2 linked regions of the Homo sapiens genome follow. The protein of the gene in region 1 interacts with the protein of each later gene in a pairwise test. Each region holds a gene or a part of one and is shown on either strand. Other genes may lie near its edges.

What was found. The genes of interacting proteins can lie anywhere in the genome.
Region 2: the proteins of FOXJ2 (region 1) and EGLN3 interact in binary tests that used the Homo sapiens proteins (3 or more experiments, as listed by UniProt).

Annotation. Positions count from the first base shown.
Region 1 is NC_000012.12:8,042,688-8,049,725, reverse strand, and holds part of FOXJ2 (forkhead box protein J2), read right to left. Parts: coding exon 6,994-7,038; intron 6,288-6,993; exon of another isoform or gene 6,199-6,287; coding exon of another isoform or gene 6,127-6,198; intron 6,026-6,126; coding exon 5,957-6,025; intron 5,776-5,956; coding exon 5,635-5,775; intron 4,967-5,634; coding exon 4,768-4,966; intron 1,845-4,767; coding exon 1,437-1,844; intron 1,030-1,436; coding exon 928-1,029; intron 365-927; coding exon 155-364; intron 1-154.
Region 2 is NC_000014.9:33,941,055-33,948,092, forward strand, and holds part of EGLN3 (prolyl hydroxylase EGLN3), read right to left. Parts: intron 1-7,038. UniProt on the Homo sapiens protein: Prolyl hydroxylase that mediates hydroxylation of proline residues in target proteins, such as PKM, TELO2, ATF4 and HIF1A. Target proteins are preferentially recognized via a LXXLAP motif.

The DNA.
Region 1 (7,038 bases):
TCAACAGATATTCAGTCAACTGATAAACTAGTTCCACTGCTCAATTTGGGTCACTGCCCCATAAAATCCTTTCTCTCAGTTCTCTTTTGCCTTTCTCCTATGCTTCCTTTTCAACATAGTCTCCACCTCCATGGCAACTGGCTTGGTGCAGTACCTTGGCTCATGGCTGACTCCTGTTTGCCACTGGTGAGGGCACAGGAGTCAGCAATACGGGCAGGGGCTGGTGGGCGGTGGGTACCCCCTTGAGGGGGCACGTGACCAGTCTGAGTAAGGAAGTGGTTGAGGGAGTCACACAGATTGGCAATGTGATGCTGGTCGAGGGTCCAGTTCTTCTGCTCTGCCTGTCGTAGACTCTCCATCAGTTCTACAAAGAGGGAAGCAAGCAATGCAAACCTTGCAGAGGTAGGAAGCCCCTATCAGACCCCGCCCTATCTCACTGTTCCAAACACACCATCAATCACCCCCACTGATAACGGGCACTAACAATAACAATTTATATCTTTCAGAGCTCTGCATTTTCAAACTCTCATTCTATTTGATCCCTTACCAAATTCTTATAATTGCCATCTTACTGATGAGTAAGATAAACTTTCAATGTGACTGAGTGACTCAGCCAAGGTCACACTGTCAGTGAGTGGTGACAAAACTACAAAATCGTGGTCCACGGTCTCTAAATTCCTGAGGGCCTTCTCCCTCCCAAAGACAGAATGGACTAGGATTATTCACTGCCACATTTTCAGTTAAGACAAGATTAATTTGAGTTAATTTGAAAATAATGTAAATATGATCCATCTTGTGTAAAAAGAAAGAAAAACAATGAAATCCTCATTTCTGCAACTTCATTTAACCACCCCCTTCCGGTTCCAGTTTCTACTGGGTTTTCCCTTACAGTGTATCCCTCTCTTCCTTCGTCCTTTGATCACTAACCTGAGAATTGTGACTGCTCAATGCTGGACCAATTGAGCCGATTCACCATCTTGAAGCTTTCCTTTAAAGAGTCAATATTAGAGCACCAGTCAGAAGGAAAGGCTGTAAAGAGGAGGGGAAAGTGGATAATAAGATAGAGTGAAGTGTAAGACAGCAGTCAACTGATACCAGGCTGACTACATGCAAGATTCTTGCATCTATACAGATTAGCAGTTGCATTTCCAAGTTTTGGACTCTCCCTCCCTGGGAGTTTAGGACTGGAAAAGCTAGCTACGCTTTAAGTACAGCCAGGCTCATAGTCAGGAGAATATGTAAAACAATCTCAATTGATCCAGGAATTCTATAAGACAGAGCTCTAAGTAGTAACTTTGTTCAGATTAGCTCACATGAAGGAGCGAAGCCTAAAAGACCCATCATTAACTTCCTAACTAACTGCACCTCCATGCCGGTGTTAGGACAAGGACATCACCCCACCCTCCTCTAGATCACTGTGCACCCTCCTTACTCACCAAAGCCAGTGTTGTTGATGGGAGCCTGGCCTTGTGCCTGTGGCTGTGGAGGTGGTGGCTGCTGGGCAGGGTGGGAGTGGGGATGGTGCTGATGAGGGTGGTAGCCTCCATGCTGCAGCGGGGGTGGATGCATGGCCATTACAGGGGGAGGCCCATAGCCTTCCGCCCCAGCTTGCTTTCCCCCTGGTGGGGTACAACCATCTGTGCTTGGGGTGTGCAGTGGAGGAGCACCCCCTACAGCTGAGGGGCCCTGGGCAGGTGCCTGCTGCTGCTGTGGCTGGGACTGCTGGGGAGGTGGCTGTGGCGGCTGCTGCTGCTGCTGCTGCTGTTGAGGTGGCGGTGGCTGCTGCTGCTGATACATGTAGTAGTTGTTCGAGGGTGGGATGTCCCCCAGGAGAGAAGAAAAGCCTGCAGGTGGGGAGGAAGCAGGCAAGTGACTTAAGCAATGCATTTTTCACAAAATGGGATTTTCCCTGGGTTGAGATGGGAAGCCTCAGACTAAAACTGTGGAGTTAAAAGGGTAAGAACATTCTAGGGCAGCAAAGATCCCTGTGGCCCTCCTGGCAGGTACAAGAGACAGGAAGGCACTTAGGTTAGAGGAGGGCCCTGACAGTGTGGAGACCACTGAAATCTTACTAAAAAGGTCAGTGTGTAGCATTTAATGCTACTTTTTAGGGATTTGGCTGAAGGCCTGAAATCACAGTTTCCCAGCAGGTGAACTTTAAAAAGGAAACCATCCCTGGTCATCTAGTGTTTAGGGAAAAAAAAAAAAGTAAATCAGAAACAAAACAAAGCCATCAGTTGTCTACTATCTCCTCTTCCTTCCGTTTTTTGTTTTTTGAGACAGAGTTTCGCTCTTGTTGCCCAGGCTGGAGTGCAATGGTGCGATCTCGGCTCACCGCAACCTCCGCCTCCCAGGTTCAAGCAATTCTCCTGCCTCAGCCTCCCGAGTAGCTGAGACTACAGGTGTGTACCACCACGCCTGGCTAATTTTGTATTTTTAGTAGAGACGGGGTTTCTCCATGTTGAGGCTGGTCTCGAGCTCCTGACTTCAGGTGATCCGCCCACTTTGGCCTTCCAAAGTGCTGGGATTACAGGCATGAGACACCACGACCGGCCCCTTATTTTCTCTACACTCTGCTACTGCCAAGTCATTCCTGTACCCTCTATAAACAAATGTAGCTTGGGTAAGGAGCAGAGACAGGATGGAGTTATTTCTCAAGCAGACAGGCTGGGAAGAACAAAAGTCTGAGACTAGGGGCTTTCGGTCACAATAAAACTTGAGTGAACTCTAGGCTGTCCTCACCCAATCTAATTTTTTACTTTATTTCTGACAGTTTCTCATGTTCCCTCCTCCAATCAACCAACCACCTGAGTCGGATTCATTTTTTGAGCAAATGCTACAGTCTTGGACACTACTCTAGGAATTGATCCCCTGTGATATACAAGAAGAAATTCATGAAAATGAATATAAGTTTTCCAAAAAGTGACTCCTAACCAGTTTTTATCATTCCATTCAGCCCCTGCTGCCAACATAGGGCTACTGCACAGAATGAGAAGGTCTAATGCCTCACCTGAAATCAACTTCACCACTGTCTCTAAGTTATTTAAAAAACGAACACACAGATATTGCAGAGGGCCGAACCAGATGTTCTCTCAAGGGGCCTCCCAGTAAAAACTTTAAGTCATTCTCATATGATAATTAGGAAAATGTGCACGGACAAGATACTAGCTGATATTAAGGATGTATTATCAATTATGTTAGGAATGATAATGTCATGGTAGATAACTAGAAGAAAGTCATCATTTAGAGGTGTATATCGAAGTTGTATTTATGAGTGGAATGACATGGTATATGTGAATTCCATTAAATTACTCCAATTTTTAGAAGGCTCAGTGGTAAACAAAACAAGCCTAATAAAATACTGATAACTTAAAGTTGGGGGATGGAACACAGGGGTTTATTATATTTTTCTCCACACTTTTGCATCTGTTTGCAATTTTTCACAATAAAAGTAACATAAATGTAAATACACTAAAAAGAAACTGTTCTCACAATGAAACGCAGGGATTCTTCAGGAGAGGGTACTGCTGCTGCCCCCTCGTGGTCGTCCTCCAAATGACTCACTTGCAGCCCTAAAATCACTGCCCTTAGTCCTGGAAGGGGCAATCCTCCAATTCACTTTCTGAAGCTATTAGCCTAGCTTGCCTCCTGAAACAGCTGTATTTGCACAAGGACAGATGAGCTCACTTGACTCCAAACAGTTTTAGTTCATGAAATATTTCCTCTGAGTAGTGATACCTCTCTTTGTGTTAAAAATAAGAAATATGGGTCAGGCACAGTGGCTCACGCCTGTAATCCCAGCACTTTGGGAGGCTGAGGTAAGTGGATCACCTGAGGTCAGGAGTTCAAGACCAGCCTGGCCAACGTGGTGAAACTCCGTCTCTACTAAGAAATATAAAAATTAGCCAGGCGTGGTGGCGGGAGCCTGTAATCCCAGCTAATTGGGAGGCTGAGACAGAAGAATTGCTTGAACCTGGGAGGCGAAGGTTGCAGTGAGCCGAGATCGCGACACTGCTCTCTAGCCTGAGCAACAAAGAGCGAAACTGTGCCTCAAAAAAATAAAGAAAGAAATATGGCCGGGCACGGTGGCTCACGCCTGTAATCCCAGCACTTTGGAAGGCCAAGGTGGGTGGATCACTTGAGGCCAGGAGTTCGAGACCAGCCCAGCCAACGTGGTGAAACCCTGTCTCTACTAAAAATACAAAACTTAAGCCAGGCACAGTGACTCATGCCTGTAATTCCAACACTTTGGGTGGCCAAGGCAGGCAGATCACCTGAGGTCAGGAGTTCGAGACCAGCCTGGCCAACATGGTGAAACCCTGTCTCTACTAAAAGTACAAAAATTAGCTGGGTGTGGCATGCGCCTGTAGTCTGAGCTACTCGGGAGGCTGAGGAAGGAGAATTGCTTGAACCCGGGAGGCGGAGGTTGCAGTGAGCCGAGATTGCGCCACTGCACTCCAGCCTGGGCGACAAGAGCGAGACTCCATCTCAAAAAAAAAAAAAAAAATACAAAAATTAGCCAAGCGTGGTAGCACGTGCCTGTACTCCCAGATACTCGAGAAGTTGAGATGACAGAATTGCTTGAACCCGTGAGGCGGAGGTTGCAGTGAGCTCAGATCGTGCCACTGCACTCCAGCTTGGACGAAAGAGTGAGACCCTGTCTCACAAAAAATAAAAATAAAAAACTAAGGGAAAAAAGAAAATGTCACCCCACTTGTTCAACAAGATAAAAAAGTCTCCCTGCACCCATCCCAACTCCAGACTCACCGTGCTGAGAGGAGGAAGAGGACTTCTCCAGCATGGACTTATAGAGGTTGCGGAAGGACCAGCTTAGATCCTGAAAGTTGATCTCTGAGTAGGAGAATTTAAAGTCATGGTTGGTGTTATAGAGGGGAGGGGGACCCTCAGCACTTTCTCGGCCTGAAGCCCCTGCTGCCACTGCTCCACCATCCACAGATCCTGTGCCCTGCAAAAACAGGTAAGAAATTCCTGATCAGTGTCCCAGCTGAGGGACCAATAAAACCCTTCAATGGTCACCAGGCTCTCCTGTCTGTCCTCTTCATCCTCGCCTAGCTCTTCAATGACCCAGCATCATTTTCTCCTTCTTTCCTCATTAGTTCTTATCTTGAATCTACCCTCTTTCTCTCATCAGTCTCCATTTCTTCTTTTTTGTTTGTTTGTTTGTTTCTGAGGCAGGGTCTCGCTCTGTCGCCCAGGCTCCACCTCCCCGGTTCAAGTGATTCTCATGCCTCAGCCTCCCAAGTAGCAGGAACTATAGGCACATGCCACCACGCCCAGCTAATTTTGTATTTTTGTAGAGATGGGGTTTTGGCATGTTGGATAGGCGGGTCTCAAGCTCGTGGACTCACGTGATCCGCCTGCCTCGACCTCCCAAAGTGCTGACATTACAGGCATGAGCCACTGTGCCCAGCTTTTTTTTCCTGATGTTTCTCAAAGTTCTGCTATGCCTTTCTATTTCTCTCTCTCTCTATTTCCCTCTTTTGCCTTCCCCTTCCTTCTCAATTTATCTGCCTCATATATCACAGATACTCAATACATAATTCTGAATAAACAGGGAGACATCTGAATCTATTCACCACCCATCCCATGACCCCTGCCATATCTGCTTCCTACCTGGCTGTAGCTGGCTATAGATGTGGGGCTCTGAAGTGACATCTGCGGATTCCCCTCAGGAGGCAGTGAGGCTTCTCCACTCCCTGCAACGCCTCCCCGTGGGCTCTTGCTTGCCTCCTGTTCTGGTGAGTCTTGGGACAGCTGAGGGTTGTGAAAAAAAAGAAATCTATAAGCAGAGGCGCAATATCCTCCCAAGACCCATGGTTTCCCCTCTGCTGGTATTCCTTCCACCTTTGCCTCTGAAAGGACTGAACGTCCATAAGAGGAGGTGGAAGGAGCAGCTGGCTCAGATATGGCATCTCCTCATGAGCTGGGAACTTACATCATCATCTGGAGGGTGTCTTCTCTTTCGGGAAATGTCAGGGCAGGTGTCAATTGTCCAATAGGAACCCTGGAAGGAGATCCCATTCCCACAGAAAACAAAATTGTTACATTCAGAACCTCCCAGGGTTCTGGGTATTAATGAAGAGCAAATTTGTCCTAGAAACTCACTGAGTATGCCAGAGGTAATCCTGTGGTCCAAACACAGGCCTCGATTGTTTTGGAGGGGCAGAACAATGGCATCTAGCTCAAAGAGCTGGAAATGTCCAGACACAGCCTCTCCCTTCCCTTCTGACCTGAGGCAAAACTTGCTTGGACTTTAGCATCCACATCTGTCAAATGGAGAGAATGATCCATCCCTTCTCTTTTACGGGGGAAACACCAGGGACTTTTGTATAGAGATGTTTGTACAAAGGTTATTAAGTCTACCTTTTACATCTAGGAAAAAAGAGTGCCACACAAAAAAGGGGGAGCATGAAAGTCAACTTTACACTAAGTATTTCTATTTTTTTAAAAAAAAGATTTCACAGTCTTTTTTTTTTTTTTTTTTTTTGAGATGGAGTTTCACTCTTGTTGCCCAGGCTGGAGTGCAATGGCACAATCTCAGCTCACTGCAACCTCTGCCTCCCAGGTTCAAGCAATTCTCCTGCCTCAGCCTCCTGAGTAGCTGGGATTACAGGCATGTACCACCACGCCTGGCTAATTTTTTGTATTTTTAGTACAGATGGGGTTTCACCATGTTGACTAGGCTGATCTTGAACTCCTGACCTCAGTTGATCCGCCCGCCTCGGCCACCTAAAGTGTTGGGATTACAGGCATAAGCCACCACGCCTGGCCTCACAGTCTTTCTCAGTCACCCATTCTACTGGGGGCCCATAAGCTTGACAACCAAGCTTCCTCTGAGAAAAAAATAAAGATGCTTCTCTAATTAGCATGATTTCCTCTTCTGGGTAATTAAAACAGCCACAGGACTCTGGACTGTCAACTACTTCACTCTCCTTCCTACTCCTCCTTTCAATGCTTACAGTAGTATCTTACCTTCCCAGGGTCATCCCGAGGTCTGGGCACCTTCCGGAAACACTT
Region 2 (7,038 bases), on another chromosome or scaffold:
GAAGTAGACATACAGTATTATTGTGCCTATGTTATAGATGATGAAAGTGGGCTCAGAGAACTGACTTGCCCAAGATCATAGGAAGATGAAATAAAATCTGAAGTGTCCATCCTAGTGTCAAGTGGTAGGTGCTGACCAAATTTAAGTTCAAAAATGAAAACAAGTATCTAACTCATCCATAAAGAAGTGGAAATGGAGGACCATGAAACTTGCCAGGGGCTGAGCTAGGACCAGAACCTGGGGCCCTAAGCCTCGTGGCCCTGGCGTCTCTGAGCCAGACCTGTAGGTATGAGCTGCCAGGATCCAGGTGTGACTCGGGTATTTCTAGGGTGAAACCTAGGATTTCGAAACTGAGAAAAAAAAAAAACTTACAAAGCTAAGGTCCTCCATTGAGATGGTCTCACATAACATGTCACTCTAATAAAATATTTAAATACTTAGGCATCGAATTAGAGACTAAGCTGCAGCCACCCATCTTCCCCCGTCATTCCCCTCTATCCCCCCCAAAAAAAATTCTAGCTTTTTTTTTAACATTCAAATATCCATCAAAATCAAAGTTCCTTTTGAAGATGAAATTAAGCCAACAAGCACCTATGAAGTATAAGGGACTGTTCTAGGCACTAAAAGTATATACAAAGCTTAACAGTCTCTGCATTCAAGGAATTTCTAAGCACACGGTGGACAGCATAAACAGCCCAATAAATCCATGTACTGGGCAGCCTGGATTGAGCCACGACAGAGTTCTGGGGAGCAGAAGGGAAGACTTCAGGGAACAGGCACTAGAAGGCGGTAGAGATGGATTTTTGATGAGTGGAAGACAATGGGGAAGCTCATTATGCCTGGCAAATTAGTTTCTAGCATTTCAGGGACTGGGAGGAAAGGAAGGCAGTGGTGGGAAATTAAGTGTAGAAAGGTCAGATGTGGTCAGATGTAGAGGGCTGTCAAAGCTGGCTAAGTTTACAGTCTTTACAGTGTTGTATAGTAGATAATGAAGAAGGAGCATGGTTGGATTTTTGGATTATTTTGTTTTAAGCACAGAGACTACATGATTAGAATTGGAATTGGGACTACTACACTCTAGCAAAAGTACATAAAATGGATTACAGGAAGAACAAGAACCAACGGCAAGTGATTTATGGTTACAGTAAGTTACTTTAAAAAACTTCCCCCCTCAAGGATTTTTCTACTAAGAAAGGGCCCCTCAAGGATTTTTCTACTAAGAAAGGAAAGAAAGTTTAGTTAAAAAAAAAAAAAAGACAACTTGAGGTTCTATAGTGAACCTAAAAAGTAAAACTAAACAAAGAAAGCACAATAGGCCCTTCTCTAGCAATACTGCATGTTCTTGCCTGAATCTTCAATATTTTGTGTTTAAAAGGGGTTTTGTTGGCCTGGCCTGGTGGCTCACACCTGTAGTTTCAGTACTTTGGGAGGCCTGGGCAACATGGCAGAACCCCATCTCTATAAAAATAAATAAAAGGGTCCCAAACAGTATATCCTTACAGCTTCCAAGCAATGCTCAAATGAAATTATCCTGACAACTTCAAAAAGATGGAACTTCAGGGTCTCACATTAGAATAAAAAATAGATGTTATTGACACCTGGAATTGAGTTTTTCATTTTGTTTTCTTCCCACTGACAAAGAATTGAGGTTACTATCATATTATTTGATTCTTTGTATTCTGGAATTATTTTTGTATGGCAACAATAAGTATTTTGGCCTCATTTTGTAAAGAAAAACTAATGTTTAATATAAGATAGGCACATGTACTCCAGAACTTGAGAATCATTGTACCTTCTAAAGAATCAAAAATTAGCTTGATTTAATAAGGAGGTATTGACACTGTACTGAACACGGAGAACACTAAGTAACAAGGTACCAAATGAATCCAATACAAGATGTGAAAGCCTGCATTATACACCAGCAAACCCAGGGTCTGTAAGGCTGGGATTGTGTTAGGACCGGGGCAGGAAAACGTAGTCACTACAGACTCACCAAAAACAGGGACAGAAACTCACCCACAAATCAATATCAAAACAAGATGCAAAATTAAAGTAAATGTCATACCGGTTTAAGATGGAAATAATCGAGAGAAAGGGGGTACAAATTCTATGTATAATTAACCAAGACAACTAATCTTGCTTGGCAAACAGACACATAGCACTGAATCTGAGCCCAATCAACGGCTCCTGGCAATCTGCCAAAGCTGAACTCCTTAGTCTGGCACCATCAAATGATTTGTCTGTTGTATTTACAATTCCAGTGCCTCTGGATTCAGCTACCCACTGGGCACCCCTGGCAGATGCCCAGCAAAATAGATCTGAACTATCATTACTGTCAGAACATGTGCATTTGACAAACACTAGAGAAAAGCGACACCCGTTTCTTAGAGCAATATCACTTAACAACTACAAAGTGCTGCTACCAAGGAATTGTGGAGTCTGTTGCCGTAATAATTAACAAAAAGTTAATAACCTTCTCCATAATGTTAACCTGCAAGCTACTTCTTGGTCTTCAGTGGGCACAGATCAAAATGTAATTTAATTTACCTAGGGCTGCAAAGTTGGGTCAAAAGCAGAGGCCTTGCCAAACCAAACATGGCCCACAGGTGAGCAGCCTTCCAAGCTTTATCCGGAAGTACACAAGATGCTGGCAGTGCTTAAACTCTGCTCATTAGAGGTTGGGTAGAACGCCACCCTGACCTTTAAGCTTCCTCAGAGAAATCTTTCATACATGGTGTGTTCTTGGGATAGGGTCATAAAATGGAGGGCTGTTTGTTACTTATGAAATTACAAGTTTTTCCAGGAGATTCAGGAATCAGGAAAAATTTTACCAATTTTGCTTGAGCTGAAGCAGAAAGGTTAGAAAGGGAAATCATTCATGATACTCCAAAACCTTATGCAGAGACAGGCTTGCATAACTCCACTTAAGGGTGTTTATCAATTTTCAGTCAGAATTATATTTAAAATTCCCAAATAAAATGGTGATGCCACTGAATTAACCTACTGACCCTGGTCCCAGTCTGTCTGACCCAGCCAGCGTAGCCCCTTCTCTATTTTCTTTTTAATTATTATTATTATTTTTCTTGAGATGGAGTCTTGGTCTGTTGCCCAGGCTGGAGTGCAATGGTGCAATCTCGGCTCACTGCAACCTCCACCTCCCAGGTTCAAGCAATTCTCCTGCCTCAGCCTCCTGAGTACCTGGGACTACAGGCGCAAACCACCATGCCCGGCTAGACTTTGTATTTTTAGTAGAGATGGGGTTTCACCATGTTGGCCAGGCTGGTCTCAAACTCCTGACCTTGTGATCTGCCCGCCTCGGCCTCCCAAAGTGCTGGGATTACAGGTGTGAGCCACTGCACCCAGCCACCCTTTCTCTATTAAAGTACCTTTTATCCATCCCTTCCCAAGGATCTGCTCAAGATATCATCTCTCCAAATATGAAAACAACTGCTGAATGACTGAGACATTGGATAGATGTGACTTCTAATATCTCTCTAGCCCTAAAAACCCATATTATTAACATCCTGTATAGTTTTGATCACTTGTTCTGGTTGCTTCATTTTAAATTAACAGAGAAATTGGAGAAAACCCAAAGAGAAACAATGACTAATGAGCGTAAACGTGCACTTTTTAACCAGAAAAAGAGAAAGAATTGGTGACAACCACTGCACACTACACTCAACTCTCAGCTTAGTTCTTCAGGTGGTTTTGTAATCACTGGGCACTTCCCTTCCCCATCCACGGACAGGTCTCCCACAGTGTGCAGCACTGAGTGATCTGTGAATGAATTAAATCGATATCCCTTTATTATCCACTTCTCTGAAGCAGATAAGGTTATAGTGAAGTGGCCAGTGGCCCAAAATTGAGCAAAAGAAATTACAAATTAAACACACACACCCTCCTGCCTTTTTTGTTTCCAAATGTCATTCACAAAATAGACAAAAAACCCCATGAAAACTTGCCCATTGGAGAGACTTGTTTCACTGTCACTGGGACTGTATTCTGTAAATTATTACTGTGGAGTAATTTCCTTCCTACAGGAGCTAAGTTATTTTTAATACAAAAGCTTTTATAGGAATCCCTTACATCCTTACAGAAAGATGATCCAGAGCTTCAAACTCAGCACTCCTTCTCCCCAAAATACCTTATTCACAGTGTTCCAGAGCTTCAAACTCAGCAGCACTCCTCCCCAAAATACCTTATTCACAGGTAGATTTCTAAGATTCTAATTGCAGAGATACCATTTATGGTATCCAGCTCTCAAACTCTGTGCTCTAAGAGCTATAACTCTCATGGGCCCTGGCAACCATATTTGTGATGCATGGTTTCCACATGCCTCCCACTGTGCCAGACTACGGCTGATAGATCCCTTGAGCCAAGGTGAGACAATCAGACTTTCTCCCAGGCGATGAAAACAGGGATCCAGGAATGTTACTGAAGTCTCTGCTCATCTGCAACTAAAGGCTGAGGTGGCCATTGTGGGGCAGCCATCTTGAGCCATGTGCATGGGAAGGCAGCAAAAGCTGGATTGAAAAGAGGATAAGAAATGAAGAGCAAAAGCAGGGAAGCAAAGATGGAGGTCATGAGGCTCCTGAGAAAAGAACACACCAGCTGTCCTGGATGTTAAGGACTTTCTGCTTCCTAGTTCATACCTCTAAGCTTCTGAGAACCCTGACTGCATTTCTTGCACTTGGATCCTGCGAGATCACTTCATAGTACATTGCTTCATTTTTCCCTTAAAGTAGTTTGCAACCATGATAAGCTCCATTAAATAATGTATATTCCTGACCTCACATGAGAAGGGTGGGCCAAAACTGTTATTGCTCAACAGCAAGGAATAAACACACCACCTTGCAACACATCTTCTTTAATTCATAAATGTTTTGCTGTTTCATCATTCCTCCTTATTGTTTCCAGGGGAGGACCAATTGGTCTGTTCACAATGCAGTCCTCACAATGCCACCTTCCAGAGCTAGTCTGGTCAGGAATCCTACGAACAAACCCTATCAATAAATGTTTTCCTAAAAATAACAGTAGAAGCCGGGCGCGGTGGCTCACACCTGTAATCCCAGCACTTTGGGAGGCACCAAGGCAGGCGAATCACCTGAGGTCGGGAGTTAGAGATCAGCCTGACCAACAAGGAGAAACCCCGTCTCTACTAAAAATACAAAATTAGCCGGGCATGGTGGCGCACGCCTGTAATCCCAGCTACTCAGGAGGCTGAGGCAGGAGAATCGCTTGAACCCAGGAGGCGGAGGTTGTGGTGGGCCAAGATTGCGCCATTGAACTCCAACCTGCGCAACAGGAGCAAAACTCTGTCTCAATAAATAAATAAATAAATAAAACAGTAGGAAAACATCAGCACAGTACTCTATTTTTTTCTTCAAATGTACTCAACTGACCCACTTCAATGTTTGAGGGTTTTCTTAAGCCTAAGAATTAGTCAAGTGTGAATGAGACCATCCTACAATTCAAAGTATACGAAAGTATAAATTCGTTCATCATGGCACCACCACCCCTGCACAGCATCCCACACAGGCTGAACACTCCATAACATTTGCTGAATAAATGAAAGGTCGGAAGTAGGAGAGAATAAAAGGAAATAACACAGTCTCTGGAGTTACACAAATCTAGGTTAGGATCCCAAATTTCCCCTCTGGAGACTTAAAACACTGATGAAGGCTCGGAATTCTGCTAAACATTTCATAAACATCATCTTATTTAATGCTTCTTCCTCCAACAGCTTTACGGCATTATTTCCTTTCATTTTGCACCTGGTGTAAACCAAGCAACTTGCCTAAAGCCACGAAGTTAGTTAACACTGAGCCTGAGCTCCCAGCCCCCATTTAAACTGTTTCTTACCACTGACTTTGAAACTTTGGGCACAGTATTTAATCACTCAATATGTTTAAGACTGTGTTTCTGAAGATTAAGCAAGATAGTATTTGTAAAGTGCATAGCACAGTGCCAGACAATACAAACTGCTCAATAAAAGGTAGTTCTTCTTATTAGAGTCACTAACTAGTGAGTCTACAGTGAGCTGTTTGAAGCAGAGGGACTTTTGGTTCTAAAAATTATACATTCTCTGGAAAACAGCCATTTTCAAGATCTAGGCAGCCAAAGAAAAAGGAGCAAATTATGACCAATATTTATCTTGGATATGGTCTAAAATCTCCAAAAGGGAGTAGCGAGCGGATAAATCCTTTGCTAGCCTGAAAGCAATGATCATGCTTGAAGTTAGGGGGGGCCATACAGCTGTACATTACAGGAACCACTTCCCAAGGGGTCTTCAACACCCTTGGATTTTTCTCCAGCAAAGATGAGGTAGACAAATTCTGACCATTAACAACTTTCTTGGCAGGAAGCAGAACCATCTAATATTTCTTTCTATATTCTTCCACAATTTCAATTTTAGGTCCAGTGTATCTTTCTGTTTTACTCCCAATATCTTTGCTATTGTTTCATTGAGATAAAGGGCAATATTATTCAATGATCTTTCCAAGTCTAGCAAAGAACAAAAAAAGAAATGAAATTTGGGTAAGTGCATGAATAAGCATAACCTCAAGAAATTTAAAGTAGCTAAAAAAAATTGGTCTAAAACAAATGTACATATTGGCAATTGTTGAAATTGGGTGATGGGAGCTCATTATATTAGCCTCTTATGTTTATGTATGTTTGAAAATTTCCTTAATTAAAACTTAAAAATAAATTTAAGGGCCGGGCACAGTGGCTCAAGCCTGTAATCCCAGAACTTTGGGAGGCCGAGGCGGGTGGATCATGAGGTCAAGAGATCGAGACCAGCCCGGCCAACATGGTGAAACCCCGTCTCTACTAAAAATACAAAAATTAGCTGGGCAGGGTGGCGTGCCTGTGGTCCCAGCTATGCAGCAGGCTGAGGCAGGAGAATCACTTGAACCCAGGAGGCAGAGATTGCAGTGAGCCGCTACAGCCTGGCGACAGAGCAAGACTCCATCTCAAAAAAATAATAATAATAAATAAATTTAAAACTTTAGTTTTTCTTGAAAACACGGGTGAAGG